7 separate regions of the Homo sapiens genome follow, and regions 1, 2, 4, 5, 6 and 7 are each reported to be linked to region 3. Evidence: microRNA targets listed by miRTarBase, many of them from high-throughput screens and not tested one by one. Region 3 holds a microRNA gene; each other region holds the end of a gene's coding sequence.

What was found. The annotated mature microRNA hsa-miR-192-5p reads CUGACCUAUGAAUUGACAGCC and lies in region 3 at 1,909-1,929, opposite strand. An mRNA with a match to its seed (bases 2 to 7 or 8) in the 3' UTR can be bound and repressed. Matches are read on the target gene's strand: a 7mer-m8 pairs with bases 2 to 8, a 7mer-A1 pairs with bases 2 to 7 and ends in A, and an 8mer does both.
Region 1: the mRNA of STK17B is a reported target of hsa-miR-192-5p. The part of its 3' UTR that is shown has no 7-base or 8-base seed match.
Region 2: miRTarBase lists GAS2L3 as a target of hsa-miR-192-5p. The part of its 3' UTR that is shown has no 7-base or 8-base seed match.
Region 4: miRTarBase lists PCDH7 as a target of hsa-miR-192-5p. Seed matches in the 3' UTR shown: 7mer-A1 at 3,034-3,040.
Region 5: the mRNA of RIC8B is a reported target of hsa-miR-192-5p. Seed matches in the 3' UTR shown: 7mer-m8 at 2,553-2,559.
Region 6: the mRNA of ABCB10 is a reported target of hsa-miR-192-5p. The part of its 3' UTR that is shown has no 7-base or 8-base seed match.
Region 7: the mRNA of CSGALNACT2 is a reported target of hsa-miR-192-5p. Seed matches in the 3' UTR shown: 7mer-A1 at 2,069-2,075.

What each region holds. Positions count from the first base shown.
Region 1 is chr2:196,134,203-196,138,272 of GRCh38, forward strand. STK17B (serine/threonine kinase 17b) reads right to left here. Exons shown (of 8, transcript NM_004226.4): 8 at 1-3,527. The coding sequence ends at 3,245. Among named protein-coding and RNA genes, the nearest start is that of STK17B, 35 kb to the right of the region's middle.
Region 2 is chr12:100,624,149-100,628,218 of GRCh38, reverse strand. GAS2L3 (growth arrest specific 2 like 3) reads right to left here. Exons shown (of 10, transcript NM_174942.3): 10 at 1-4,070. The coding sequence ends at 3,329. Among named protein-coding and RNA genes, the nearest start is that of GAS2L3, 52 kb to the right of the region's middle.
Region 3 is chr11:64,889,295-64,893,364 of GRCh38, forward strand. MIR192 (microRNA 192) reads right to left here and starts at 1,952; the gene lies at 1,843-1,952. It overlaps MIR194-2HG (MIR194-2 host gene), which reads right to left. Exons shown (of 3, transcript NR_133640.1): 2 at 3,296-3,532; 3 at 1-46. It overlaps MIR194-2 (microRNA 194-2), which reads right to left and starts at 2,145; the gene lies at 2,061-2,145.
Region 4 is chr4:31,142,490-31,146,559 of GRCh38, reverse strand. PCDH7 (protocadherin 7) reads right to left here. Exons shown (of 3, transcript NM_001173523.2): 3 at 1-4,070. The coding sequence ends at 3,711. Among named protein-coding and RNA genes, the nearest start is that of LINC02497, 27 kb to the left of the region's middle.
Region 5 is chr12:106,885,392-106,889,461 of GRCh38, reverse strand. It overlaps RIC8B (RIC8 guanine nucleotide exchange factor B), which reads right to left. Exons shown (of 10, transcript NM_001330145.2): 10 at 146-3,558. The coding sequence ends at 3,447. Among named protein-coding and RNA genes, the nearest start is that of TMEM263-DT, 68 kb to the left of the region's middle.
Region 6 is chr1:229,514,958-229,519,014 of GRCh38, reverse strand. ABCB10 (ATP binding cassette subfamily B member 10) reads left to right here. Exons shown (of 13, transcript NM_012089.3): 12 at 140-174; 13 at 605-2,433. The coding sequence ends at 836. Among named protein-coding and RNA genes, the nearest start is that of NUP133-DT, 8.6 kb to the right of the region's middle.
Region 7 is chr10:43,182,783-43,186,852 of GRCh38, reverse strand. CSGALNACT2 (chondroitin sulfate N-acetylgalactosaminyltransferase 2) reads right to left here. Exons shown (of 8, transcript NM_018590.5): 8 at 1,551-3,603. The coding sequence ends at 3,311. Among named protein-coding and RNA genes, the nearest start is that of CSGALNACT2, 46 kb to the right of the region's middle.

The sequences.
Region 1 (4,070 bases), not on the chromosome of region 3:
ACTTCTTTGATAAAGGAAGCAATGTGTTGATTTATATTCTGGCACAAGTACCTTATTACTGACTAGAGCAGGGGTCCCCAGTCCCCAGGCCACGACCGGGCTGCATAGAAGGTGGGGGGCGGTGCCAAGCATTACTGCCTGAGCTCAGTTTCCTGTTAGATCAGCCATGGCATTAGATTCTCAAAGGAGCTCGAATCCTGCTGTGAACCACACGTGCAAGAGATCTAGGTTGCATGCTCCTTATGAGAATCTAATGATAAATGTAATGTACTTGAATCATCCTGAAACCATCCCCCTAAACCCCCAGTCCTGTGGAAAAATTTTCTTCCACAAAACCCGTCCCTAGTGCCAAAACAGTTGGAGATCGCTCCACTAGAGAACAGTTAACGGCTTACTTCCTTTAAAGTGCCATTACAATTTCACTGCTCAGAGCTAGGTTCTTTACTGTAGGGAAAATAATTAAAATGACAATTGCAATTGTCATCTATATATCATCTATTTAAAAATCCCATCTATTTAGGGATCCTACCCAAAAAGCAAATTTAACTTTAAATTATCACAACATAACACTTATCTTCTCATGTGTTCAAGTGTTACTGACATTTGTCCACTCACAGGGGCTCTCTAGATTCCTACTTTAGAGAAATACATTATGCTTTTCAATCTTGGGAGAAAAAGAGTAAGAATTGAATCATTTGCTAAAAAGCTCTTAAATGATTGGTCTATTTTCATATTCCAATCAATAACGTTATTTAAATTCACACCTTTGTAAAAAGAGTGGATTTTTATATTCTTTGTGCAATCACTAGTTGCTTTTTTACTATAAAACTTAATATCAGGAAAAAAGGCATGGAAATTTACAGCTCTGTATTCTACTACTTAAAGGTAGATGTAAAGTATTTTAAGATTTTCAGACATTTGTAAAAATGTCTTTTAACAAATGAACTTATAATTTAAAATTCAAATATTTCTTGATTTTTTGGGGGATGGCATGATTCCTCTAAAAATTAAAAATATAATATGGTCTTCAGAAACATAATCATTTCATTATCCAATGACTTACTAAACTTTACTTGCATTATCTTAATACCAAAGGCAAGTAAATGGACAATCAACAATTTAGAAACAACTCATCAGTTTTAGATATACAAGGGCTCAATTTAGATTATACAACGTCTAGTTTATTGGACCAACAAACTACTTAAAGAATTTAAATGTCATAAGAAGAGAACATAAAGTCATATAAAGAATATAAATGTCATAATTTATATGTCATAAGAAAAGAGCTCCTGGGCGGGGGCGCAGTGGCTCACGCCTGTAATCCCAGCACTTTGGGAGGCCGAGGCGGGTGGATCACTTGAAGTCAGGAGTTTGTGACCAGCCTGGCCAACATGGTGAAACCCCGTCTCTACTAAAAATACAAAAATTAGCTGGGCACGGTGGCATGCGCCTGTAATCCCAACTACTCAGGAGGCTGAGACAGGAGAATTGCTTGAACCCGGGAGGCAGAGGTTGCCGTGAGCTGAGATCATGCCACTGCACTCCAGCCTGAGAGACAGAGCAAAACTCCATCTCAAAAAAAAAAAAAAAAAAAAAAAGCTCCTTTGGCACCTGAGTTGAGCACAATATACCACAGCAAAGAATCTTGAAAAGTGTCTAAAGAATGTATTGTATCTATCTATAGATATATACATACACCTGTACATACACACATGTGCACACATACACACACAAGTAGAGAAAACTTTTCCTTAACAAATGCTGAAGACATTAAAGGAATTCACCATGTGGTCAAATAAAGTGACCTGATAGTTATTCAAAAAGTTTTAAGTTATTATTAAAGAATTTGGAAACTTACCAAAATTTTGAGAAGTTAAAGGTCTAAAGGGGGAACATCAGGTTGTTGTTACCATTTGTCAAACTATTTCTTCTGATACAGCAACATGGTCATGAGATCACAGTTATCGTAACATGATAACAGACCAATATAACGGTCATCAGGTGAAAATTCATAAAAGATTACCCGAAAAGGACTAACTTTCCCCATCATTAGGGCTGGATATAGTCTCTAGCCATAAGCAAACATTTTGCTCTCCCTAGTCTCTTGCATTGGTCCCAGCAAAAGACCACAATGAGGGGCCACTCTGCAGATGGCTTTAAGCTGAGCCTCCTCACTCACTAGGAATTTCACACAAGAACTTCAGACGAGCCTGATGTCATGTTTTATGATCACATCAGTCTTGCTACCGCTGACTCGGGCACTGTGTTAATAGACCTACCGGTGCTGTAATTTTTTATGCATACTTTTAGAACTCTGAATGACTGGCTTGTATTCTAAGATGCAGAAGACATCTAAAATTCAGTAAGCTGTCTGAGTGTGTCAACATTTTCTTCTATATTCAATTAATAAATATGTTTGACTAAAAATACAGAATATTTAACTATACCTAAGTATCTTCTACTCTAGAAATTCTGGAGGATTAAAAAACTCTACACTTGCATACCAAATATCTCCATCTTCCAGACCTTATCAGATCTCAAGTAGGTTGGGAGGAGGAAAAAGACATTTGCGTTAAAATACGAAGGCATGCTACTCTTTCCTCTGCTCCAACTTGTAAAGAATATCCCTGATCAGGTTTCTAACTCCCTCTTTGCTCTAGTTAAAGGATCTCTCTCATATAACAGACCACAGAGAATGAAAATCTTACGAAGTTTCAAAATATTTGTAATTGAAAGACATTTTCAATTGTAAAATGTCTCTTGAGCATCTATAAAGTAGAAATTATTTTGGCTTAAACTTCATACTGCTTTCCTAAACAAATTATGTTGATAGAGGCATGGTATAAGAGTCACCTTAGAGAGAGAACCTATTAAATTCCAATGTCTTCACTGTGTTCAGTTTACACCAACTATAATAAAACTCAAGCCACTTTTTTTGTTGATATGCAAAACATTCTGGTAAGTTCATTTGAAGTTGAATTATTTCATTAACATGTAAACTCACATGTACAATTTTACTTTTTGTCATATATTTAAATATTTTCTTATCTGCAGAGCTATCTCAGGATATGAAATCATAACATGCTAGCAACTAGTAATTTAACATTAAAACACTTCCCTAAATTATTCCATGGAAAAGTGCATTTACAATATAAACATGTCATATATGAAGCTACAAATCATAATCTCACTGGAGTGGATATAAAATTTCAAATTCAGTCCAAATGAGTCAAAGAAAAAAGTGCTAACAGAGCAAATCTGAAACAAGTTCATGGGGATTGGGTAATGAGTCATCGAAACGAAATCTTTTGGAAACCATGCTGCTATCCTCTGGGATATTCTCTTTGTCTTCTCTATCACCACAGGTTCCATTACAGGAGGATTTAGAAGTCTTGTCTTCAGAGGACCTTACAGAATGATCCTGAGTTTGAGAGGAACTGGAAGTTTCTTCAGGGTGAAACAAGTTTTCAAAGTCCCACTGCTGTAGCCAAGAATGAGAAAGGCATATCTCTGCTGTTGGTCTTTTCCTTTGAAAGAAAGCACCAAGGGAAAATTGAGAACTAAAAATCAAGTTGAAAATGTCTTCAGTTTGATAGATTATAGACATATTTTTTACTTCTTGTGAAAATAAAACATACTCATAGTATAAAATCCAAACAGTACAGAAGAGAATAATAATGATAATAGCTGCTAACATTTACTGAATGCTTAGTTATATGCCAGGGACTATTCTATACGCTTCAAATACATTATTTAACAATCATAACAAACTCATGAAATGGGTACTATTATTACCCTCATTTAACAGATATGCAAAGTAGGGTACCAGGAGGCTTGAAATTTACCCCAAATCTCCTAACTTGTAAATGGTAGTTAAGTGGAACTTTGACTCTATCGTCTGTGCTTTTAAGCATTACACCATATTATCTCTCATGAAGATAAAAAGTAAAATTGTTTTCTCATTCCCCAATCCCACTTCCAGATATTTTTTCTACATATATGTGCATATACATACACAAACATATACACACACATACACATACACAGCTTCACATACTCCATGTTTCTGC
Region 2 (4,070 bases), not on the chromosome of region 3:
TAAGAAAATATACACAAATTTGGATTCAAATGGGGTTATTATGTGAACCTGGATGTAAGACTACATCCTAACAACCTGTTGTTGAAGCCTTTTAATAAAGTAACAGATTTTAAATCAGATAGATATAAAAAGACTGAAGAAAAACAGTAACTTTTCCTTAAGTTCTCTTATCCATAAAGAATGACAAACTCCATATGGACAGTAAAGTTAGAGGTCATCCAATTTACCAAGGCATTTTGAACACATAAACCTTAAATACCTACTTTAAGCCCAAACAAGGTAAAAATAATCGGCATTTCATTGTGCTCCGAAGTTTAATTTTACATATCATGTTAACAAATTATAGAAAATAAAATAAAAGCATTTTCCATTTTTTTGAAAGTACACATCATTACTTCTCCCAGGTACTTCAGTAATTTAAGCTTAATACTCGTTTTATTAAACATTAAACACAAAAAAGAATTTACAAAATCTTGCACTGTTATTAAGAAGAGATGGAAAGTTCTCCCAACTTCAGCAATGTTAAGAGCTGTTTTTAAATTGTGAAAATGAATAGAAACACTAGCTCTTTAGGAGAATTTCAAAATACATCTGAAGAAACTAATTGTCTTTCGGATATTGTTTATTCAAACAAAACTTTTCGCTGGGTGTGATGGCTCATGCCTGTAATCCCAGCGCTTTGGGAGGCTGAGGCAGGTGGATCACCTGAGGTCAGGAGTTTGAGATCAGCCTGGCCGACATGGTGAAACCCCCATCTCTACTGAAAATACAAAAAAATTAGCTGGGCCTGGTGGTGGATGCCTGTAATCCCAACCACTCAGGAGGCTGAGGCAGCAGAATCACTTGAACCCAGGAGGCAGAGGTTGCAATGAGCTGAGATTGTGCCACTGCACTCCAGTCTGGGCAACAAGAGTGAAACTCCGTCTCAAAAAAGGAAAAAAACAAAACAAAACAAAACAACATTAAAAAAACACTTTTATTTTGGAAGGGTAAGCTATATATAAATAAAAATTCATTCAACATGAATGTAATTGGAGAAATTCCCTACTGCTGAAAAATAGTAATGTATAAACTGACTTCCAATTATTCAAATAAACCTTTTTCTTTTCTTTTTCTTTTTTTTTTTTTTTGAGACAGAGTCTCACTCTGTTGCCCAGGCTGGAGTGCAGTGGCGCAATCTTGGCTCACTGCAACCTCTGCCTCCCGGGTTCAAGCGATCCTCCTGCCTCAGCCTCCTGAGTAGCTGAGATTATAGGCATGTGCCACCATGCCCGGCTAATTTTGTATTTTTAGTAGAGAAGAGGTTTCACCATGTTGGTCAGGCTGATTTCGAACTCCTGACTTCGTGATCTGCCCAACTTGGCTTCCCAAAATGCTGGGATTGCCTGGCCTCAAATAAACAATTCTTTGGCTAATTCTGGAATTTGTGTCAGATGCCTGTGGGATACTTTTATTCCTGATCACATTTAACACAAAACTTAGTGTTTATATACTGTAAACAACATAAATTACATATTGTAAAATCTACTAGGATTCATAAATTGCCTACAATTCCATTTACTTTTTGCTTTCTTTTAAGTTCTAAAAGTTACTGATAAAGAAGTGTTACTTGGTTTTATAAGGGAATACTTGATGATAAAATTCTTCCTGTCTGAAAAGATGCACTAAATATTTCTGATCACTAAAAAGTAAAGCTTCTATCACCTCTTGAACATTGACTTCACTTTCCAAAGATGTATATATCATCTCTCTCAATGCCCAAGTCAATAGTCGAGTTAAACCAAGTATTTGGTGACTGTCTCTTTAAAGAAGAGAAGCATCACTTCTTCCAAAAACTAGCTTGCACACATCTTTGATTTTATCTGTACTCTTCAGGCAAAAGGTCATTTATCTTCATAGAAAGTTTTCTTGCTTTGTAATCTATAGAACACTAGTCGCCAGCTTAAAATGCTTATTCTATGATTGTACATTTGTGTAAACTATTATTTTTTTCTTCAGAAAACACATTTTAGTTTAAAACAGAGAAACACAAACCTGAATACTGAATAACCTAAGATAATTGGCAATACTGTGAAGTTTTAAAAGCACTCTTAAAACTTCTCAAAGTTCATTAATAATTTTTAAAGTCACCATCCCTTAAAAATAAATTATTTACAAGTATCACCTTAGGTTGATGGAGTTTATGCAGTCATTACATGATCAGGATATGCTTGAGAGACTGTGCCTACAGTGCAGAAAACCTTGAACATATCCTGTCTACTTGCCATTGGAAAACTGAAGGCAGCATAACTTTATTAAAGAAAAGTAACCTAATTGGAAGAAATTAATTAAAATTGGTATTGTGCTATCTAGAGAAAAATAATTTCATGATAGAATTTTTACATAGCATAACTCTAAAATTATTTTAACATCATCTTAATTTTAAAGTTGTTAAAACATAATTCTGATGTTTCACATTATTTTAATGTAAAATGTCAGGTCTGCACTCACAGGAAATTACATTATAAAAAATTATTTTTAATATGCTAAAAGCTACTAAATCAGCTTCCCCTGTCACATTGCACAACATGTGAAACATAAGGTGTCTACGTTTTTATAGATAATATAAAAAATTGTTTACAAAATTTGTTTATATTTCAGTAAGTTAATTTGTTGGATTTTTTTTAACCAAAAATATTGGTGACAAAATATTACCAATGTAAATATAAGCCACATGAAACAATCAGTTCCTTCCAATTTGGAAAGCTTAAAAAAATAAATAATAAGAATTCTACCTAACACAGAATAATGCCAAGCTAGTCAGCAGCAGCCATGACTTAGCACTGTTGGATCAGGCAATCCTGATCAGAAAATTAAATTAGGTGCCTTTTGTAGGACAAGTGCCAAACTGTTGCTTTTTTTTTTTTAACCAAAATGCAATTAACTAATAGTAAGAGCACCACCGTTGATATTAGCAGGTATATGAACTCCATATTTAATACATATTCAAAAATAGAGCAACTATTGTTAAAATTCTTGTAGTGTTAAATAACTTTTACATTTCCTGCAAAAGGCAGATGTTAACAAAGATGCTATAGACTGAAAATCATATACATGTCTATTATTAATAAAAACCTTGCAGTGATTTTACAACTGTTTGCTTCAGAAGGGCTCTTTCCAGTGAATTCAGATATGTGAATTCTGATGAACCCTTTCCTCATCCCAGCCTCCATCCTCACTATCCTTAGTGTCTGCACCTATTTAGACAGACACAAATAGGAGAAACTTTTAAGATGTGAAGCTAACACATTCATTCTTCCTTTTCTCTTTTTTTATAATGAGTATGTATTTATTTTCTAGGTTTCTTACTTCCAGTCATGACAAAATAATGGTCATCATCTTCCTTTTTCTTTGCAGTAGGTTTTTTATCTCCACTATCTGCATCCTTAACAGATGAGGGTGGTTTCCTGATTGAAGCTGGGGTTTTGCCACTTCTGGGAGGCCCTTTAGTTGAATGCTGGCTCTTAGCGACAGTCTGTGCTGACTTCGGTGCAGTTTGTGTTTTGGTAGAAGACTGGGGTAGGCTCACGATGGACAGTGGGGTACGGCCAGGAGACTTCAAGGAGCTGGGTCCTGTCTTCTGAAATGCACTTTTATTCTGAGGCTGCTTTTTGGTAGCTGAAACTATATTCTTATCTTTTGATTTCTGTGTGGCTTTTACAGGAGAAACTGAGGACACAGAAACTGGCTGATTTAAATTCAAGGCCGATTTAAGTTTCTGTGCTGGGACTGGCTTTGCTTGTGGGGCTCCATCGGATGGTTGAGACTGTGTTCCTAGACCCGTGGCTATGGTTTTGGAACTGGTTTTTGTCATTTTTGCAGAGGACTGGAAAGAAGGTTTAGGTCTTACAGGTATATTTGCTTTAGGCAGCTTGGGACATTTTGAGGATGAATTTGAATGTGCAGCTAAGTGAGATACTGCATTATCTCTGGAAGAAATATGATTATGTTTCAAATACTTAGGTTGAGTTTTTCCTGAACACTTATTTGGCAAAAGTGTGGACTCGGGCAGATCTGCTGAATTCTGGGCT
Region 3 (4,070 bases):
GGGGCCCAGGGATTCAGAGCAGCCAGGACAGTGTGAGCAGAGCTGCCTGTGGGAAGGGGAGAGAGACAGTGTCTTAGGGGCCAGATGTTTGTTGGCTGCCTACAGTCCCCAGGAGAAGGTCCAACTTGCTCTGTGACTTCAGCAAATGTGCACCCTCTCTGAGCCTGTGTCCTCCTGTCCCAAACAGGTTCATGATGGATGCCAGGAGGACCAGGTCCTGGATGTGCGTGCCCAGCAGACAGAAAGGGCTCAATAGCCAACGCCTGTTATTAAGCAATTTGACATTTATTCCTAGGTCTCTATTTCCCATTTTACAAATTTTATTTTGTAGTACCAGAAACCTTTTTATTCAAATGAAAAATTCTGACAGGGCACAGTGGCTCATGCCTGTAATCCCAGCAGTTTGGGGGGCTGAGGCAGGACTGCTTGAGGCCAGGAATTTGAGACCAGCCTGGGCAACATGGTGAAACCCCATCTCTACGAAAAATACAAAAATTAACCAGGCATGGTGGCACGTGCCTGTAGTCACAGCTATTTGGGAGGCTGAGATGGGAGGACTGTGTGAGCCCTGGCAGGTGGAGGCTGCAGCAAGCTGTGATTGTACCACTGCGCTCCAGCCTGGGTGACAAAGCGAGCAAGACCCTGTCTCAAAAAAAAAAAAAAAAAAAAAGGAAAATTTCCTCAGAACCCCGTTGTATAAGAAACAGGTGGGGCTGGGCGCGGTGGCTCACACCTATAATCCCGGCACTCTGGGAGGCCGAGGTGGGCAGATTATCTGAGGTCAGGAGTTCGAGACCAGCCTGGCCAACATGGTGAAACCCAGTCTCTACTAAAAACACAAAAATTAGCTGGGCATGGTGGTGCATGCCTGTAATCTCAGCTATTTGGGAGGCTGAGGCAGGAGAATCGCTTGAACCCAGGAGGCAGAGGTTGCAGTGAGCTGAGATCATGCCAGGAGGGGAGGCTTCCTCCTGGGAGGAAGCCTGTTGCATTCCAGCCTGGGCAACAGAGCAAGACTCTGTCTCAAAACAAACAAACAAACACCACAAAGAAATAGGTGGAAATGAGGCTGTTGTGGGAGGCGGGACAGGGGTGGGGTCAGCTGTCCTGTCCTGGGTTGGCTGCTCTTCCTCTACCAGCAGCTGGGGTCCTGGGCCCTCTTAGGAATCCTAGGGGCTGGAGAAGCTGCTCCACCAACCACAGGGCTGTGCTCCAGGGAGATGAGACTGGCAAAGGAGGGGAGAGTAGGAAGCAGATGGGGAGGCTGGCTCAGGGCCCCATCCTGGGTGGGGGGGCTCCAGCACAAACACTGGGCCTAGAGCACTCAGCCCCCCTTGGCCACACTGCATGTCGGTGGGTGCTTCCTCAGGGTGCAAGACAGAGGCTCAGGATTGGTTCAGCAAACATTTATTGGGCACGCGCCTGGGCTGGGAACTGAGCTCACAGATGGGGAGAGGAGCGAGACATAAGCAGAAACCAGCACCGGGGCTCCGAGAGGGCAGTGCTCTGCGGCAGCACTGTGTGGGGGTGCCCAGGTGGGGACTTAGAAGCTTCAATAAGGCCTTCTGGAGGCAGCAAATGCTTGGACAGAGCTTGAAAGGGTTAGTAAGAGTGAGCCTGGCAAATAAGCTAGGAAGAGTATTGCAGCCCAAGGGAACAGCATGGGCAAAGCATAGAGGTGCCACAGGGCAGGCAGGGCAGGGGCAGGACTGAAGCTGTTCAGGCTCATTCACGGGGAATGAGACAGAGGGAGGTGGGACCATGAGTGCTGCACTGGGGTCGCAGGATCTCTGCTGACTGCTGGACACCCCCGGCCCTCCCCTATCCCTGCAGGTCCTGGTGGCTGGCATTGAGGCGAACATACCTGTGACCTATGGAATTGGCAGCCAGAGGGGAGACGAGAGCACTGGCTGTCAATTCATAGGTCAGAGCCCTGTGCACTCGGTCTCGGCAGCCCACCGACAGCCCTCCACTACCCGCCACCATCTGGCCTGGGAGCGTCGCCACGGTAGTCCTGGCTGGTCTGCTGGCCAGCACCTGCCTCTCCTTCTTCGTGGGTACTGGCCCTCGCCCCAGATAACAGCAGCCCCACTGGAACCAGTGGGCACTTCCACATGGAGTTGCTGTTACAGGGGGCGGGAACCAATTGGAGACCGGGGCCCTGCCTGGCGTCCGCCTTCGGCAGGGCTCTGGAGAGTGTCCCATGCCCACTCACCTGGGCTCCCCAGTCTTCGTGGCCCCAGGTCCATGGTCTTTTCACCGAGGCTTCTTATCATCCGGGGCCCACACCTGGCGCCCCGTGTGCTGCCAGCACTCCTTCCTGGGCAAAGTCCAGGCTCAACCCCAAATCGGCCTCATAAAGCCGGGAGCGGCTCGGATTTACAACTCCTGGGCAGCCTTTGCCCGCTCTGATGACCCCACGCCCTCTGTCCCCAAGTTATTTTGTTTCCTTGTTTCTTTCCCAACCAGAGCTGGGCCTCAGTTTCAGGTTTGGCCACTGTCACCTCTGCCCTTTGCCCACCCTCCCTGCTGCAGCCATGGGGCAGAGAGACAGCAAGGGACAGCTGGCACTTGTCAGTCCCCAGGGACCTCCCAGTGCCTGATTTCATGAGGATGGCCTCGTATGGGAAGCTGAAGATGAGACTAAGAAGAAGTGTGGGGGGCTGTGTGGGGGAGGGCACAGAAAGAGGGATAGTGAGGCAGAGGGGCTGAGAGAGGAAGAGAAGAGTAAGGCCGAGGATGGCGGTGCACACCTGGCATCCCAGCACTTTGGGAGACCAAGGTGGGAGGATCTCTTGAGCCCAGGAGTGCAAGACCAGCCTGGGCAACACAGTGAGACCCCATCTCTACAAAAAATAAAAAATTAGCCTGGTGTGGTGATGCATGCCTGTGGTCCCAGCTACTCAAGAGGCTGAGGCGGGGGATCACTTGAGCCTGGGAGGTCGAGGCTCCAGTGAGCTGGGATTGTGCCACTGCACTCCAGCCTCAGTGACAAAGAAAGACCCTGTCTCAAATAAAAATAAGAGGAGCAGGTAGAGAACTAGAAAGGAACAGAGAAAACAAACAGGGATAGTGGATGACGAGGTGTAGGAAGGGGGACGACAGGGAACTGGAAAAGATGTAGATACACAAACCTGCCGCAGAACATGAGGAACAGGCTGTGAGCAGTGGCTCGCCTGGAAGGACGCTTAGGACCTCAGTGGCCTGGAAGACAGCAGGGGCCTGGGAGCTGGGTGACCTTGAGCAAGTAGCGTAACCTCTCTGAACCACTGTCCATATGTCAATCAGGACTTACGAGGCCACCCTGCACGCTGGGCTGGCCTGGTGGGAAGCATCCGCCCTGGGACCCTTGGGTCTCTCTCCGCTGTGGGGAGAGGAAGCAGCTGCTGGCCAGGGTCCCTGAGTGAGCCCAGGGCTCTGTGAGGCAGAGCTTCCTCTTGCAAAGCGTGTTCTCGTCCCTCCCAGACAGGTTCCGGTGACAGGTGCCAGTCCTGCAGAGACCCAGCAGGCATTTTGGGAGACTCCAAAGCTTCTGGAGAGAAAGGGGAGCTTTTAGAGTAGACTTGGGCCCTGCCCCCTTTGCCAGTGGTGCATACAGGCCTAGAGAGACAGAGGGGGCCGCCCAAGGTCACAGAGCAGGGCCCCAGGGCCTGTGCTGCCCCAACAACCTTCCCGAAGTGGCGTCCCCCCTTCTCAGGATGCAGTCAGGGTGGGATGGGGGATCCCTGGGCTGGAATCCTTCTGCCTGGGGGGACAGACCTGCGAAGGAAGACACCGTAGCTGGTGGCTGGCCCTCCACTCAGCCTGGCGGCCCTTCCCACAGAGGCCTGGGCGAGACCAGCCTCCTGCAGCGTGGTGTCCAAGTGCCCTGGCCTGGCAGAGACAGCGCCCGATCAGGAATCCTGGCTCCACAGCTCTGAGCGCTGATGCTAAGGCCCCCTTATCCCACAGTGGAAACCAAGGCACAGAGAGGAAGGGGCTCGTCCCGGCCACCCCATGGCTGTCCAGGTCCCTTTCTTCCTCAGGATTGGCCACCCTTCAGAGAGGTGCCTGGGTTCAGGAGCCTCCTA
Region 4 (4,070 bases), not on the chromosome of region 3:
ACATTACAAACAGATCGTACCACACTGAACGCAAGTGCTTTAAACTGTAGGAAAAGTCTGAAAGTAAACCCTAGGTAGCTGAACAAATGATGCTTCCTCCAGATGTTATCATTACACCTTCACCTAGGTCACAACTCACAAGATTTACTATATTCATGATCATGCTCACTTTTTATTATTTATTTATTTATTTATTTATTTATTTATTTTTGCTTAAGGACACATTTTCTTATTTCTCACTGAGAGCATATACCTAAGATTATTTAGGTCTTTAGATTTCTCATGACTGTTTTTGGATGGCTGTTTGCTTCTTGACAATTTCTTCTGGTCTGTGTGTTTTATTCTATTTTCCTACAAGACAGCTTCCTAGGGTAGTGTTTCAGTCAGACATCCTCAGTACCATCTTAGTTCCTCCTCCCATAAAAATAATGCCTCCCTTGTTTTCTGAAACTCAGGCAGCAGGCCAGTCAGAAACCATACAGAAATGATATCTGGAGATTCAGAAAGAGCAGTAGATTTTAGATTGAAGCTACAGACGTTTTAATACACATAAATTTATATAGTTACTCATTAATTTATAAATGTGTCCTAATGTATAATGCATGCAAAATTCACTTGAGAGTCTTGTGTACAGAAAACAAATATGGTTTATATACTGTACAACCAAAATGAAACCATAGCTGAAAGAAACACAACAAAAAAGAAATAAAGAATAAAACTCTAAATCAGTATTTTACCTTGCCAAATGGACTGATTTCACTCCTGATAGTATCTCTGTGTTACACTTACAATAAACGCTTTCATCTTCTAGTCAGATTTAAGCAGCCCATATTAATGCCTTAACTTTGCTTTATGACATAACAATATTTAAGACTGGTCCATTATCTGAGTTTGTCAGAAGGCAAATTTTTAATATATTATTTATTATGTTCAGAAAATAAACATGGACAAATATACAGGATCAAAAAAGTTGGGAATAGCCCATTTCCCCTCATTGTCCAAACCCAACAACCGTTTTTTTACCGTAACAACAGGTATAAAAGGCACAGTTGCTTATTTTGCATTCACTCATTTATTTTTTTTGTTTCTTTTTATTGATTTTTTTTCAAAAGCACTCTATATATGGAGTGGCACCAGATTTAACCTATTTAAAATAAAAGTCATACAAACACAAAATATATTTCTGTGTCATGCCAGCTCATTATATAATAAACATGTTATGACAGCTAATTCTACTAGAATTACTGTGAATACTTACAGTACACTGAATTTTATTCTTTCACATCCATTTTAGTTTTAAAGAGAGGTTCACGAGTTAAATGACAATGGCATGGCTATCTTGAATGGGGTGCAAACATCATTGGGGAATGTGGATCCAATTAATCCGAAGGTCCGGTGTGACCCGTATTAGTTTTATAGACAAGAGAAGGGTTTAAGATAGGGTGAAATGAGCTATCAGTGGTTTCAATGTCTCATGAAAGAAAGAAATGCATTAAAAAAAAAAAAGTTTGTCAAACATCCGTGTTATGCAATTGAGTATTTTCTTTGTAACGTGCAAGAAAAAATGTGTATACATTTCATAAGTATCTTTAGAAGTATTTTGTCTTAATAGGTACTTACAGATTATACAAGGCAGAACTGCTTTAATGCAGTTTCCTAACAAAGTACTAGAATTGCATCTTTCCATAGTGTAAATAATAATCAAACATAAACATGTTCAATTACTGATATTTTAGTCCAATGTTTTTTGTTTCAATTACATATCTTTTTGCATCCTACCTATTATACATAAACTAACATCAAAATGAAAACTCCATTTAAGAAAGAGCATAAGGAAATGACCCCCAAATTGTACCCCACCAAACAGAGAAGCGGTTTTCAAAGATAAGTATTTTGAAGACCTATAGTGAATTATCAACCTATATTCCAGGCTGTGTCACTTTATAGTCTAAGAAATTCTGCAAAGCATGAAACTACCCAAAGCTACATTGTTTCTACAGTTTGCTAGAGAGCCATCAAGGCTATGCCTTAACCAGCTTGCAAACATTCAGTGATAAGTTTGTTCTCTTCACACCTGTTATTCCCTATTCTGTCCATGGATTGTCACTTTCGTCTGAATGTCCCAGCTCAATTTTCAGCCGTGTTAGGTTATCCTCTATAGAGTGAGTAGCTCAAAATCTGCATATTCTGTTTCTTTTTATTGCACTGGAAAAACTCTGCTTTCACCTTTGAGATATACATTCTGTGAAAAATGTCACTGCCCAAAACTCCTTTCTTTCATGTTCAGTCTAGATTTGTTTAAATAATGTTCAAATCACATTAGTGATAAAGTCAACTAGGGTGTCACCTTGTTTCAATGTTGTGAGTCTCAAAATATTTCTATATTGCACACGATTCAAAATTAATGCACTTGTGGTGCATCAAAGTGTGCACTGAACAAGTAAAAAATGCAATTGTAATTTAAAATGTGGATAAAAAGAGCAGCAAGCATAGCCTGGATTCTAAAATGATAATCGTGGACTTAACTATCAAGACTATATGCCAATGCATCTTTCTTAACCTACCCATGATCCATAAATACTATTTTAAAACATGGAATCTTCCCTGATAATATTACCTGAAACTAAACTTGAACCTCAACCAATTGCCTATTATAATACCAAAAATATATCTCACTAGTTTTCATTTTCTGCGCTTTCAAATAAAATCCATTTTAAAAGAAGGAACATTTTCCTGGGCACTATAAAATGAACTAGTGTTTGATTGTTTCTGTGCATACATGGGTTCAGTTGCTTTTGTTGTTTAATGGTTTTCCACGTCAAGACCAAATCAACTTCATGACTTCCCTGATCTGCCATATGATCTTTGGCCTTTGGATGATACAATTGTTCAAGTTAGTTAATAATAGTGGTCTTGTTCTGAAAAAATATATATAATTTTTAGAAGTCATAACTGGTGAAATTGATACATGTAATCAAGACTGTGTGTATACTGAGAATATTTGGTGAATGTATGGAATTGAAGTTGATGCTCTTGACCTGAAAATAACAACATATGACAATTTAGGACTGCAATCACCCACTGAGTATTGTTTTTCTCTTAGTCTTTGTTGGAATATTAAAGCTTTGATATTCCCAAAATACTTTTTAATACAGTCCCTCTTTCTAAGGACTGTACCTTTAGAGGGACTCTATCACTTTCAAAGGATTGCCTTTGATGGTGATAAACCATTTTCTGATGGTATGTCTGAAATACATTTTATCTGTCCTGCTTATTTTTGACCAGCCAGATGACACTCGAACAAAATCAAAGTGACTAAAATCATGCTTCAGCTTAGGGATAATGAGGGTGTGTTGTGTTCTGCTAATCAGGCTTCGTACAGTTACTGTGAAAGAAACTTGCAACTATCCCCCTTTTTTTTTCTTTTCTTTTTGTTTTTTTTTTTTTGGAGAGGGGTGGGGAAGAGAAAGTGAGTGTTGGGAATCAGTGAAGGGGTTAGACATGCAAGTAACAAGGATGGTTTCTACATTGTACAGTAGAATCAGGCTAACAGTATCACTAAAGGCCTGATCTGGAGGCAGAAGTGGCAGGCAAAGCTTTGTCTCTTTGGTAGCCCCCTCTTTGTGATTAAACGTTTTGCTTTGTAAGGTTTTTGCCCCTTATTCTCCTTTTCATACATGTAAAGAACTTTGCTGTTGCTCCTTTATAGCCTACAGGTAAACTTCTCTTCTAGTGAGAGTATTGACAGGAGATGGCTTATATTCCCCTGTTTTTGTAAGGGGAATATCCTCAGGGTTGGCTTCCTCATTTTTGCTGAAACTAGCTGCACTGAAGGTCTCATAGGATGAGGTCAACTTTTTGTTCAGGAGGTTTCTGTTGCGGTCACCCATGATGGCGGCCTCCCCATTGGCCAGCTTTTCCTGGCTTCCTCGTTCATCAACAGGCATGAAAGTGGACAGTTTAGGCTGGCTCTTCTTCCTCTCCGGAGAAGTGCGGACCGGCATCCAGCAGGAGTCTGAGTGGCCATACTCATCACACTCACGAGTGCACTTCCCAGTCAGGGCTACATC
Region 5 (4,070 bases), not on the chromosome of region 3:
TCTAGAAAGGCAGCAGGCACCACCTTTTTAAATTTTTTTTTTTTTTTATGGGCGTGGTGGTCATGATGTCTTCTGTTAGAAAGAATATTGGGAAGGAAACTAGCAGTGTCTGCCACAATTCACATAATGGAATATCATATAGCCATTACTTTTTGAAGAATATTTATTGACATGGGAAAATGCTCACAATATGTTAAAGAAAGCAGGATACAAATCTGTAAATACAGCATGATCCCAATCTTGTAGTAAAATAAATTATATATGCATAGAAAAAATACAGGAAGGAAATACACTAAAACATTAACAGTGATGATCTCAGGATGGTGGGATTTGGGGTAAATTATTAATTTTATTTTCTGCATTTTCCAAACTTTCCACAATGAACATATATTACTTTTATAATCAGAGGGGAAGAGGTCAATACAGGTGACACCTAGTCCTGGGAGGTGGCGAGACTGATGTGGCACTAAGGGGGTGTTTAGAGTCACTTGTACTGCCTCATTCTGTGTCCTCATTTATAAAGAAGGGATAATAACACCTGCCCTGCCTGCCTCCCAGGACTACTGGGCATCTGAAAGGGTCACAATATCTGGTGATTGTTCCTCTGTAGCAGCAGCTCAAATGCTTTATTTTAGGACACACGCCTCCGTACCCTGCTTCCAAGGTCAGGAGAGTTGTGGGCAGAGAGGCCAGCCTGCAGCCTTGGTCCCTGGCCTATCCTAACGGATTCCAGGTCTTCATTGGAAATCCAGTGCTGACCATGCAAGTTTCCCACTCATACTTCCACTTCAGGTCACTTCCCTGCTTAAAAACCTCTTTAAACTAGTTCTGTTGAAATAGTTATTGCTTAAAATGGCCTGAGAATGACCACCCTCCTCACACCACTCTGTTCCCAGCATTTCAGAGCCCTAAGGAGGCACAGTGTGGGCCCAGGTGTGCTGTGGGGAAAAGGAAGGAGTGGTGCTGGGAGTCAGGCCACCAGAGTTGGACTCTTCCTTGCTGTGACGTGGGGTAACTTTCATAAGCTTTCTGGAGAGGATCTTTCATATGCGATAAGGTGAGGTTACATGAGATAACATACATCAAAAGCCCAGCATGTAGTAAGCACTTAACAGATATTAGTTCTCTTTCTGTGTGCCAGATGAAGACACTCTCATCTTCTTCCCCGCAAACTCTCTTTTCAAAAACAAAGCTTAGTGCCCAGTGCAGAGAAATGCAAAATGAAACAGAACTCACTGAAAGCAGAAGAGCACAGCTACTGAAACAGGACTGTTCAAACACTTACTCTGCATAAAGAAAGCTGGTAAGATGGCATTTCATTAAACACATCTTCATTTAGGTAAGCTGACATGCATGCCAAAGCTATTTGATTATAGAAATTATAAAAATACTTTAAAAATGCATTTGTAGAATAACAAAAATACTTAAATTTTTTCTAAACTTTTCACTTAATCTAAAATTATGAATTGCCCATTTCTTTTGCTGTTGGTTAAAACCTGGGTCACTCACCTCTCCCTCAAACATTTTGGATGAAATTCTAACATCTATTGTCTTCTTCCTACCCTTTTATAAAGCGTTCTGGATTTAATTTCTTCTTTTAAAAAAACTCAGGGTCACCATTATAGGAAGTAGTCTACGGGCCATACTGTTGTACACACATTTTCTGGGTCAACTAGAGTATCCTTTGGTAAGTAGACAGTCCCAGATTTGCTATGTCTTGAAGTTTTATTCTTCTCATCTCACTATCTAGTTTTCAGTTGGCCTTTTTCTTCTTTCAGTATGCCTGCCTTCAATCTAGCAGCCTCTTTCTTTGCCATTCTTTTGTGAGCTTCAAAGCCAGCTAATAAAACATGTTGGAAGCGTATGCAAATTTCAGTTCAGAGTCTAAGAGTGATATTCTTGAAGATCTCTCCCATAAGTAAGTTGCAAGAAACTTTGTGACATCTCCTCTGGCAGCTGAAAGGCCTTTAAGACGTAATTCCTGATTTTTTTGCTTTGCCAGAGAGGTAACTTCTGGATAAATGACCTTTTCAGTAACCCTCCATGTACTCTACCTGTCCTTAAAAAGGCTATTAGAAGTGGGACCATGGATGTAAAAGCACTTTAAAAAAGCATAAACTGTGAAATAGTATTGTTTAGCCCATGTATCTATAAAGAAACACACACAGATGGCCAAATTGAATCAACCCCAATGTTTTATTTAATTTAAAGTTTTAAAAGGCAGTGGTTAAGCACATTATGTATATATGTATATATATGAATGTATGTACGTGTGTATATACATACATATATATACAGGAAACCAACCCCTTTTCAACTTTAGCCACTGATGAGCTAGGCCCACTGTCTAGTGCATGACTCACTTTCTACTTCTTCATAGGACCAATTCTAAAAGTAAAAATAAACACCCTTTATCAGTTTAACAGTAACTAATTGTGTTTCTTTTTTTTAAATAAATAAAGTTACTATTAAACTGATCACATATGGTAGAAACGTAGAACTCACACACACACCAGCACACACAGTCCCCAATTTAAAATGTGATGTATGAATGACCTATATGTACAAATGGGTGCTGCTGACTCCCCCACCCCAAGCAGAGGCCATGAAAGAACTCCCATTACTCAGGGAGTCCCCATTCTCTATGCTGGGATGGAGGATGTGTGTGTTCCTGGCACCCCGGGTTAGACCTCAGAATGCACACTCCCCATGCGCTGATACAGATGGTGGTTCAGTTCTATGGTACTAGTGTTCAGGTACATTAGGGAATAAATAGGCATTTGTAGCTGCCTGAGAACTAAACCATCATTTATAACTCTTTATAGGGAGAAATGTATTCTGAAGTTTTAGCTAACTGACATACAAACTTTTAGAGTATAATCAGTTTGTAAGTCTGAGGCTGTGTGTGTGTTTCTATATATTTATACAAAATTGATATGAAGAATGGGGCTAGGTTTATGGAGCAGCTGCTAGGCTTCCATTTGGTGAGTTCTGATCTAAGAAGTCGCTTGCCCAAGGCTTTATTTACCAGCTCTTTCTGCTTCTCACGTGCCTCTGGCTGCTGGAGAGATTCAGAAGGGGCCACTCACACAAGTGAGGGGAAGGACATGGCTAAATCTTCTGCTAGGGATCTTGGCAAAAAGAATTGCCAGATTCAACCAGGGCCGCTTTATAGAATAAAATCCTTCAGTTCCATCCCGATGAAATGGAATTTTTTTTCTGCTTTTAGCCCCCGTAACCCCGTCTAACTGCAGCTCTGTATGAATGCCTCAATATCACAAAAAACACAGGGTCACCTCTTAAATATGCTGGATTCTCAATGAGTAAACCAGTTAATGTGTTTCTAGCCAAAGCAAGGGCATAAATGTTTTAGAGAAAAGATTCCCCTGGAGCTACAGAGAAAAGATGCTGATAAAGCAATATTGAGAGTTGAGCAGGTGATGCTTTTAGTCTGTGTCAGAGCTGGTCTCTTCGATGACAGAGTACTGGTTGAGTGCTTCCTCCAAAGGCGTTATTGTCCCATCAGGTTTTAGTCCCATTGGTTTAAGCAACTCCTCTCTAGAAAAAGAGATAAAAGAGAGAGAAAAAAAAGTATTCACCAGCATCACACACACACCCCTCCCCCCCACCCAAATCCACAACCTTTTAAAAAGAAAAGTCTTTAAAAACCAAAGTATTTTCCCTTGAGCTTTCTCTGTGTGTTTGTAATAGGAAAGATGAAAGGGGCATGGAAAGAAAAAGAGGGAAGAGGGAGATAAAAGACTTCATTCACACAGGCCAAACCTACTAAGCCAATTAAAAGTATGAAAAGTCAAGGTCTAAATGGGCTCAGGACAAGGAGCAGGTCTCTTCTGTTTTGAATAATTAACCTTTTTTTTTTTTTTTGGTGGATTGGTTTTGTTTTAGACAAGTTGAAGCTGCCAAAATTTCACCTGCCCCAGTGGTTGGAGCATACAATTAAATGGCTGATTTGATATGCATACACTTCATTCAATGGAATAAATCTGTCGGTTTTGATTTTGCCTCAGTCTCTAGTGATATGTAAGTACATGTTGATTCATTTCAAATTA
Region 6 (4,057 bases), not on the chromosome of region 3:
GGCTTCTTTCACTTAGCATAAGTTTCCAAGGCTCATCCACATTGTAGCATGTGTCAGAATTTTATTCCTTTTTTATTGCTGAGAGTTTGTATTTTTCCAATAAAATTATTTTATCTTTTCCTTTTTTTTCCTTCTTCAGAATCCCAAAATTCTTCTCCTAGATGAAGCAACCAGGTGAGGATATCTTAATAATATATGCCATTGTGTGTATTAAACCAAATTCTTCCTTCACCAAAACACTTTTAATTCTGTACCTCAAAGTGATACAACTGAAAATCCTTTTTCCCCCCTTTACTCTAAAGTGAGGGAAGCTGAATTAATAATGACAGTTGAAAACCAGTGGGCAGACTGAGTCCTAGTTGAGAGTTCTAGGTCCACTTCAGACATGGTTGCCATCAATCCTAATCACTCTGTAAGCTGTAACTGTGCAGAATGCTTTTCTCCTTACATCACAGTATAGTTTTATGGAGATCAGAAAGTCCTAAACAGTTGAAATTTTGATCATGGTAAAAATTCATTGCTCAGGAAGGGCTGCTGTGTGTATCAGGAAGCACATGGGTGTCACTGACGTCTTTGCTTTCTTGTGTGTGTGCTCCTGTGTCAGTGCGCTGGATGCCGAAAATGAGTACCTTGTTCAAGAAGCTCTAGATCGACTGATGGATGGAAGAACGGTGTTAGTTATTGCCCATCGTCTGTCCACCATTAAGAATGCTAATATGGTTGCTGTTCTTGACCAAGGAAAAATTACTGAATATGGAAAACATGAAGAGCTGCTTTCAAAACCAAATGGGATATACAGAAAACTAATGAACAAACAAAGTTTTATTTCAGCATAAGGAAGCAATTACTGGTAAACAATATGAGACTTTAATGCAAAACAGTGTTGCAGAAAAAAAACTCAGAGACTATGAAATACATAAACCATATATCAAGTTATTTGAAAAATACCTATTTTTTTCCAAAGTGTGTAAAAGATTGTTTTGAAACGTACCTGTTCTCAAGATCTTTTTATTCAGAGTTTTAATAATTGTAACTTTTTAAATGTCTATAGCACTGAAGTTATTTTCAGGTTTTGTATTTTCTTTTCTTGTGGAATATTTTAATTAATATAGCATGGCACCTCATTTTCTTTTGCCTGCTGTTAAAGATTGAAGCTATTGTCAAATGACAACTTTAAAAAGGCAATTATAAATAAAAAGCCTGATTATTTTAGGCCAGTTTACCAATCACTGTGTAATTCTTCTGGTAGTATTCTACCTACTTTTAAGTCTAATTTTACAGATAGAATAATGGAAATTGAAAATTTAACCCTTTATTCCGATAATCTCATGAAGCAAACCTAACTATTTAACATCAGCTGGAAAGAAGGGAACATTTATATTGCCCATCTCCTGTGTCTTCAAAGGTGTGAGAGCTGAGGAATATGTGTTCCTATGGGAACTATGTTTGAATATGTGCAGTTTTCAACATTTTGGCACATGAAAGCCTGACAAGTTTTTAAAAGGGCAGAAGCTTTATTTTTTGAACAGGAAAACATGTTTTTTAAATTCACATGTTTGTATGAGTACTTTTGCGAAGCAAGGCATGAACTGCTAGGTATTATTAAGAATGAATGATTTTTGCATTTAAGTTGTTTGAAGGCATGTATTTTGAAAAATATCTGTTACAAATTTATAATTTCAAGACAAATTGAATCTTATTTTATAATACTTTTGGAATTTCATTAATAAGGCTAAAATTTGAGGAATATAACTAATTTTCAGCCTTAAGACATTTAAGTTTGGAAGTCCTTGCTATTCAACAGAATAACAAGAAAACTTCAGAATGTATCACTCTCCTGAAAAGAAGATATTAATAAGCCCTTTTATTTATGGTTATAGTTTTATTTATAGTCTCAAAATTCCTAAAGCAATGCTACAACCATTGAATTTGCCATATTTTGTATCAGTGCTGTTAATTTGCTGTTGCCTCAAGAAAAAGTGCTTTTTCTCCATGGATGAGGCTAGACCCTAAGAAGTAATTAAGTCAATGTAAATCAAATGGAAGTTTTCCCATGAACTAAGCATTTATTAGTTCCCTGATTAGACTGGAAGAAGAAACCACTATTTCATGAAAAGCATGGAATATTATATTTTATTGTTCATAATTAATGAATAAAATTGATATGAATGAATATAGTGTTCTTTGAATTAGTAAACAGTACATCTGTGACAATCATTTTTAACAAGCTCTACTTGTGTTCTTTATAAAGTGTGATTTTCAGAAAGCAAACAACACAATTACAAGGTTGAATCTGAGGAAAATAATCCTTGTGCCATAGAAGTATTTACGAAATTGCATTTCATTGTTATGTTTTATTTTCTGATACATGATGTTCAATTTTATCTTTAGGTAATATTTTATATCATAGATTAAAATTTATAGTGAACTTTATCTGTGTCTGTCACTTTTTTTTTTTTTATGACCCAGGAACCAAAGATGCAGTCTGTCATTTCTTATAAAACTTCTCACTACATTGTTTCTTAGTAGAATTTGGCTGTGGAGATTCAGGAATAAAGAAAAGACTAACATTACACATATCCAAAAACATGTTGTAATTAAAAGTTCCATTCATTCCTCCTTACCAAGTTTGTTGAATGTCATCACTTGTTTGCTACTTACAAATATTGTTTAATTGTTTCACTGCAGTAAATAAGTATCTCCTACCTACATCAGGGACAAGGAACTGTGCTGTGAAGTTGATAGATGAGTAAGCCACAGTTTCTGCCCTCAAGGAGCTTCTAGTTTTGAAGGAGTGGGAAGGCAGGGGAAAATTAATAACAAGAATGCAGCTAGGGATCATAAAGAGGTGTAGTTGTAACACTGTGTTCTGGTATCACTTTTTTGTTTCCAGAGTGTTTGCATGTTACATTTGATACTTTGACAAGCCTGTAATTTAGACAAATATTTATCTTCCCCATTTCACAGAGGAGGAAATAAGCGTAGGCAAGTTGTGAATTAATTCAGCATTAATGACATACACAGTTTCAGGCAAGAAGAAACTCAAAAGAAAATTTTCGCATTGTTGAGCTCAGCATTTTGTTATATACCGTCCCAGGCTTGTCTGTATGTTCAAGGTCTCCCCTGACCCTGGGCCTGACAGGTTCCCGAAGAATAATCACAAGTTAAACCATTGTAGGTCGAACCCTTGTAAATGCATTCTTATAAAAGTAGGGCTCCATTTTGGGAATCCATCTTTTTTTTTTTTCCTTTGAGACAGAGTCTCACTCTGTTGCCCAGACTGGAGTGCAGTGGCGCGATCTTGGCCACTGCAACCTCTGCCTCCCAGATTCAAGCGATTCTCCTGCCTCAGCCTCCGGAGTAGCTGGGACTACAGGCGTGCGCCACCATGCCCGGCTGCTTTTTGTATTTTTAGTTGAGACAGGGTTTCACCATGTTGGCCAGGCTCATCTCCGACTCCTGAGCTCAAGCGATCCGCCTGCCTCAGCCTCCCAAAGTGCTGGGATTACAGGTGTGAGCCACCGTGCCCGGCCTGGTTTTAGTTTATTTTTGATAACTTTGGCAGTTTTATAAAATAAGATGAATTCCCGGCCAGGCATGGTGGCTCATGCCTGTAATCCCAGCTACTCAGGAGGCTGAGGCAGGAGAATCACTTCAACCTGGGAAGCAGAGGTTGCAGTGAGCTGAGATCGCACCACTGCACTCCAGCCTGGGAGACAGAGACCTTGTCTCAAAAGTAAATAAGCGAAAAGCAGTACAAATGTTACAAAACAAATATAAATGAAATAACTATGTGAAAACTACATTGTAAAAGTTCCTTTGGAGTGTATTTCTGAGGCATCATGGGGTTTTTCTGGTCATCTGTCCACTGAATTCATTCAATAAACATTTACTGAGCATCTTCGATTTTGCTAGGTCCTGTGCTGGGTGCGAGCTGTGCCTCCCTCACAAAGCTAGTGCAAGGATTGGCAAACAGCTGTTTTTGTATAGCCTGCAGGCTAAGGATAGTTTTTACAGTTTTAAATTGTTGGAAAAAAATCGAGAGAATATCTCATGA
Region 7 (4,070 bases), not on the chromosome of region 3:
ACAGATGTAGGTAACAGAAAAAACTGTGCATGTGTGTGGGCAGGGGGATCTAAGGAAACTCCACGTACCTTCTGTTCAATTTTTCTGTGAACCTAAAATTGCTCTAAAAAATAAATTCTATTGAAAAAAGTAGAAATCATAAAGAAAAAAGATAGTCACAATAAAGTTAGTTTTTTATTTATCAAAAAGTACCACCAAAAATGGGAAAAGACAAACCACATTGGTCTTGATGGGAGAAGATATCTGCAAACATTAAACCAACAAGAACTGGTATCCGGAATATGTGAAGAATCCCTGTGAACTGGTAAAAATGAACAAAAAGACTGGAGATAAATCATAACTACAGTTCATGCCTAAAGCCCACTAAATTGGCAAGAATTAATAAGCCTGACAAAATTAAGTACTGTCAAGGATGCAAAATGAACTCACCCAGTGGTGGAAGGTGGTCCACTTTGGAAAGTTAAACATGTGCACAACCGATGGCTCAGCATTTTTACTCCTGGAGAAATTCTGGCACACTTACAGGAGATGTTCACGACAACACGCATGCAACAGCAAAAGCAAACCACAAAAATCTACACAACCCAAATAGTTACCAACAAGAGAATATAAAAACAACTTGGAAACAACCCAAGTATCTAGTAACAGTAGAAGAAGTATAGTAGTACATTCATACTGAAGGGGTTAAAATATGCCATTCCGGCATACTATTTAAATTAAAGACACATGAAAAACAGCAGGTGCAAAAAGGTGATTGACCTTTGTGCTGTTTCTTAAGAGCAGGAGATGGATTCCAGTGTGAAAGACACTCTCTATACTGGAAGAAAAGGCAACAAACATCTTTATCTTCAATGACGAGAAGTTTGAGACCAGGAGAATATTGTACAGACCTTGTTAGAATAACTATTTTTTAAGGCTCCCGCAAAATACAGTCACATTTTCACAGTTTACTAGTCTTTGTCCAATTCAGTATGTAAGTAACTGACTCTACTTCTTTTGGTTTTATTTCTTTATGAGGGCTCCTGCACCACATAAAATTTGTATTACATCAATTTATATGCTTTTCTCTTGTTAATCTATCCTATGCCAATTTAATCTTCAAGGCCAGCTGGGACCCTGAGAAGATGGGAGGGAGTTTTTCCCCTCCCTACAGTACAATGAAATACTACTCAATAATAAAAATGAACTAATTTTGAGAATAATATGAGTGAACCTCAAAAACACTGAATGAAAGAGAATATATAATGAAATAATAATGTATATAAATTCAAAACCAGGCAAAACAGTCTATTGGGAGATACGTAACTGGGAAAACTAAGAAGAAAAACAAGTAAAAACGATCATAAAAATCAGAGTGTGACTGTTATGGAGAGGGTGAGCACAGGTGATCAAGAAGGGGCACAAGGGGCCTGTCCCCTGGTAATGCCCCATATTTTAACGTGAACAGCTGCGGCACTCGTGTTTCATTTTTAAAGTACACAATTACATGTTATACGTAATGTTCTGTCTTTATGATACTTTACAATAGAAATAAATTTATCACATTTTCATTTAACTTTTGGTAATAAAATACTTTATTGGTACCATTTAATAAATGTCAAAAACGTATAGCATTTCCATTGCTTAGCTTCCATCTTTAAACTTAAAGCTAGTTAAAAACAACAGGAACAAAAGTAAACTCATTTGATTCTCTCAAAAAACAAGCTGTAACTTACCTTTGCAAATAATTAAGTTCTCTCACTTTAAATATCGTAATTCACTGGTCTTCATAATAAATAATTATAATAATATATAAAAGGAGACAGTGGCCTGAATTATTTTGCAGAGAACATTTCACACATCTTTTAAAAAAATCACTAAACTACCACAACTTAAAACTTGTAAGAATAATTAGGTAAGAGTTATTGTAATATTGAATTAATATAGCACCTAGAAATTTGAAATTTGTAATATTTCAGATGATATGATTTACTGAGAAAAAGAGTAATGATTTTTCTTCAGTGAATTTTCAGGGGTTTTCAACATAGGTCTCTTTTAAAAGGGTTAAAAAATTTATGCATACTAGGAATTGACCTGATGGTAACAGATCCATGTGTGACAAATAATGTAGTGCAGTCCTATCTGAATATAATTTCTTTTTCACTTTGTCTCATTAATTTATACCTCAATTAAAACATTCTATATGCAAGTGACATATTTCTCTAAAACATTCCGTATTTCAGATTTCCATTCAGACTATCTTCCCCTCCTCCCTTTTCTCAAATCAGAGTGATCTTGTGGCATACCATTTGCTTTTTCTCTCCACAATGAAACTCTTTTTCAACTCAAAGTATTATAGTAATGCAAATACAAATGTAGCATATATTAATATATTAGAAAAAGGATAGTAAATACATATGGATCCATGCCAAATTAGAAAATTGAAAGCAAAAACAAACAAAACCATGCTATGCTCATCTATTCTGAACCACCATGGGAAGACCCTGATAGAGCTGGCTCAAATAAACTAATGTTCCCAGACAGAGCTAGGATCCTGTATTCCAACATAATTAAATGCTCTGTTAAAAATGTTTCCGTGTTCTTTTCTGTTTGTTCAAAATAGTTTACAGCAACTGACTACTAATCCTAATCCTGAACATGATAATGTAATAACATATTTTTAATCAAGCCATAGATTCTAACCTATTTTCTACTATTACCCATTTGCTTAAAAACAGACTTTCAGGGGTGTAAGCAACAGTAAGTTAAGGAGTTTTTAGTTCTACCTTTCTCTTGATTGATTGATTGGGGATTTCAGATGTGTCAATTAATTATCCTCTATTTCAGTGGAAAAGGATTCTTCAAGCTATCAAGTCAAGGAGGCTGACTCAGGGGCGGGCAGGTGAAGATACCTATCCACATACTATGCTCATAACGCTCCATCTCCTCTGTAAGAATGTGCTGCTCTCCACCCAACAGTGGCCCAGCACATTCCATCCGCTCCACCTAGATGCAATCAGGACACCATGCAATCCCACACACAATCAGAACATGGGCACCAGGTAGAACTAACTCAAAACAACTTTTGGGACAAATATGAGATTTCAATTTGTCAATTATTCCATAGTGCAGTATTCTCACAAAACAGAGATTTTGTGTTGAAACATTTGTTTTTTCTTCTCACATCAAGTTGAATTGCTAAAGTAATGTCAGAAAGAACATGAAAAATAAACATGTCTTCTCCAAAAGAGGCACTGCATCTGGAAGTAGAAGTAAGGCTAAATAAATAGTGCTGTTTTGTGGTTCATACAGTAACGCATTAATTATGATTTCAACCAACAGCTTCACTGTTTGTCCTGTATGCCTGTTTATGAAGATGCGTCTCTATTTCCTCCCTGAAGACCAGCATTCCCAGGTGGGAGTGAGAGGCCTCATTCATGGCTTTAGACTGGATGCACATGCGGTACTGCTCGGGGGTCAGCTCATCAGCACAGCGCTTTTCATGCCAGAGGTGGAAAAGACCAGGAACCGGAGTCCGAATCACAATGAGGTCACCATGTAAGTATTTTCGATAAAGATGAACATCTTCTCCACCCCAACCTTTCACTTCCATGTCAAATCCACCTGTAAGATCAAAATTGACACTATAAATAACTGCCTATTATTAGCCAGAGCACAGGGATATATATAAAATTTTAAATGTTCTGCTTCAAAAGGGATGGGATGGTTCAGCAAAAAGGTAGCACGAGACACCTGGCATGGAGGAGTGACTCCCAGTCACCGGAAGTCCAGTTTTGAGCTGACACTTGGACTCAAGGAGCTCAAGGTTGGTTGTTGACAGTATCAAAATGGGGTTAAATATTTAAGAACACTTTGTAAATTTCAAAGTCCTGTAGAAAATCTACAAAAAGTCAAATAAAGGAGAAGAAAATACAAGTCACCTATAATCTCACCACCATTAACTTTTTATGTTTTCTTTTTTTTTTTGTTTTTTTTTTTGAGACAGGGTCTCACTCTGTCACCCAGGCTGGAGTGCAGTGGTGTGATCATGGCTCACTGCAGCATCGACCTCCGTGGCTCAGGCGATCCTC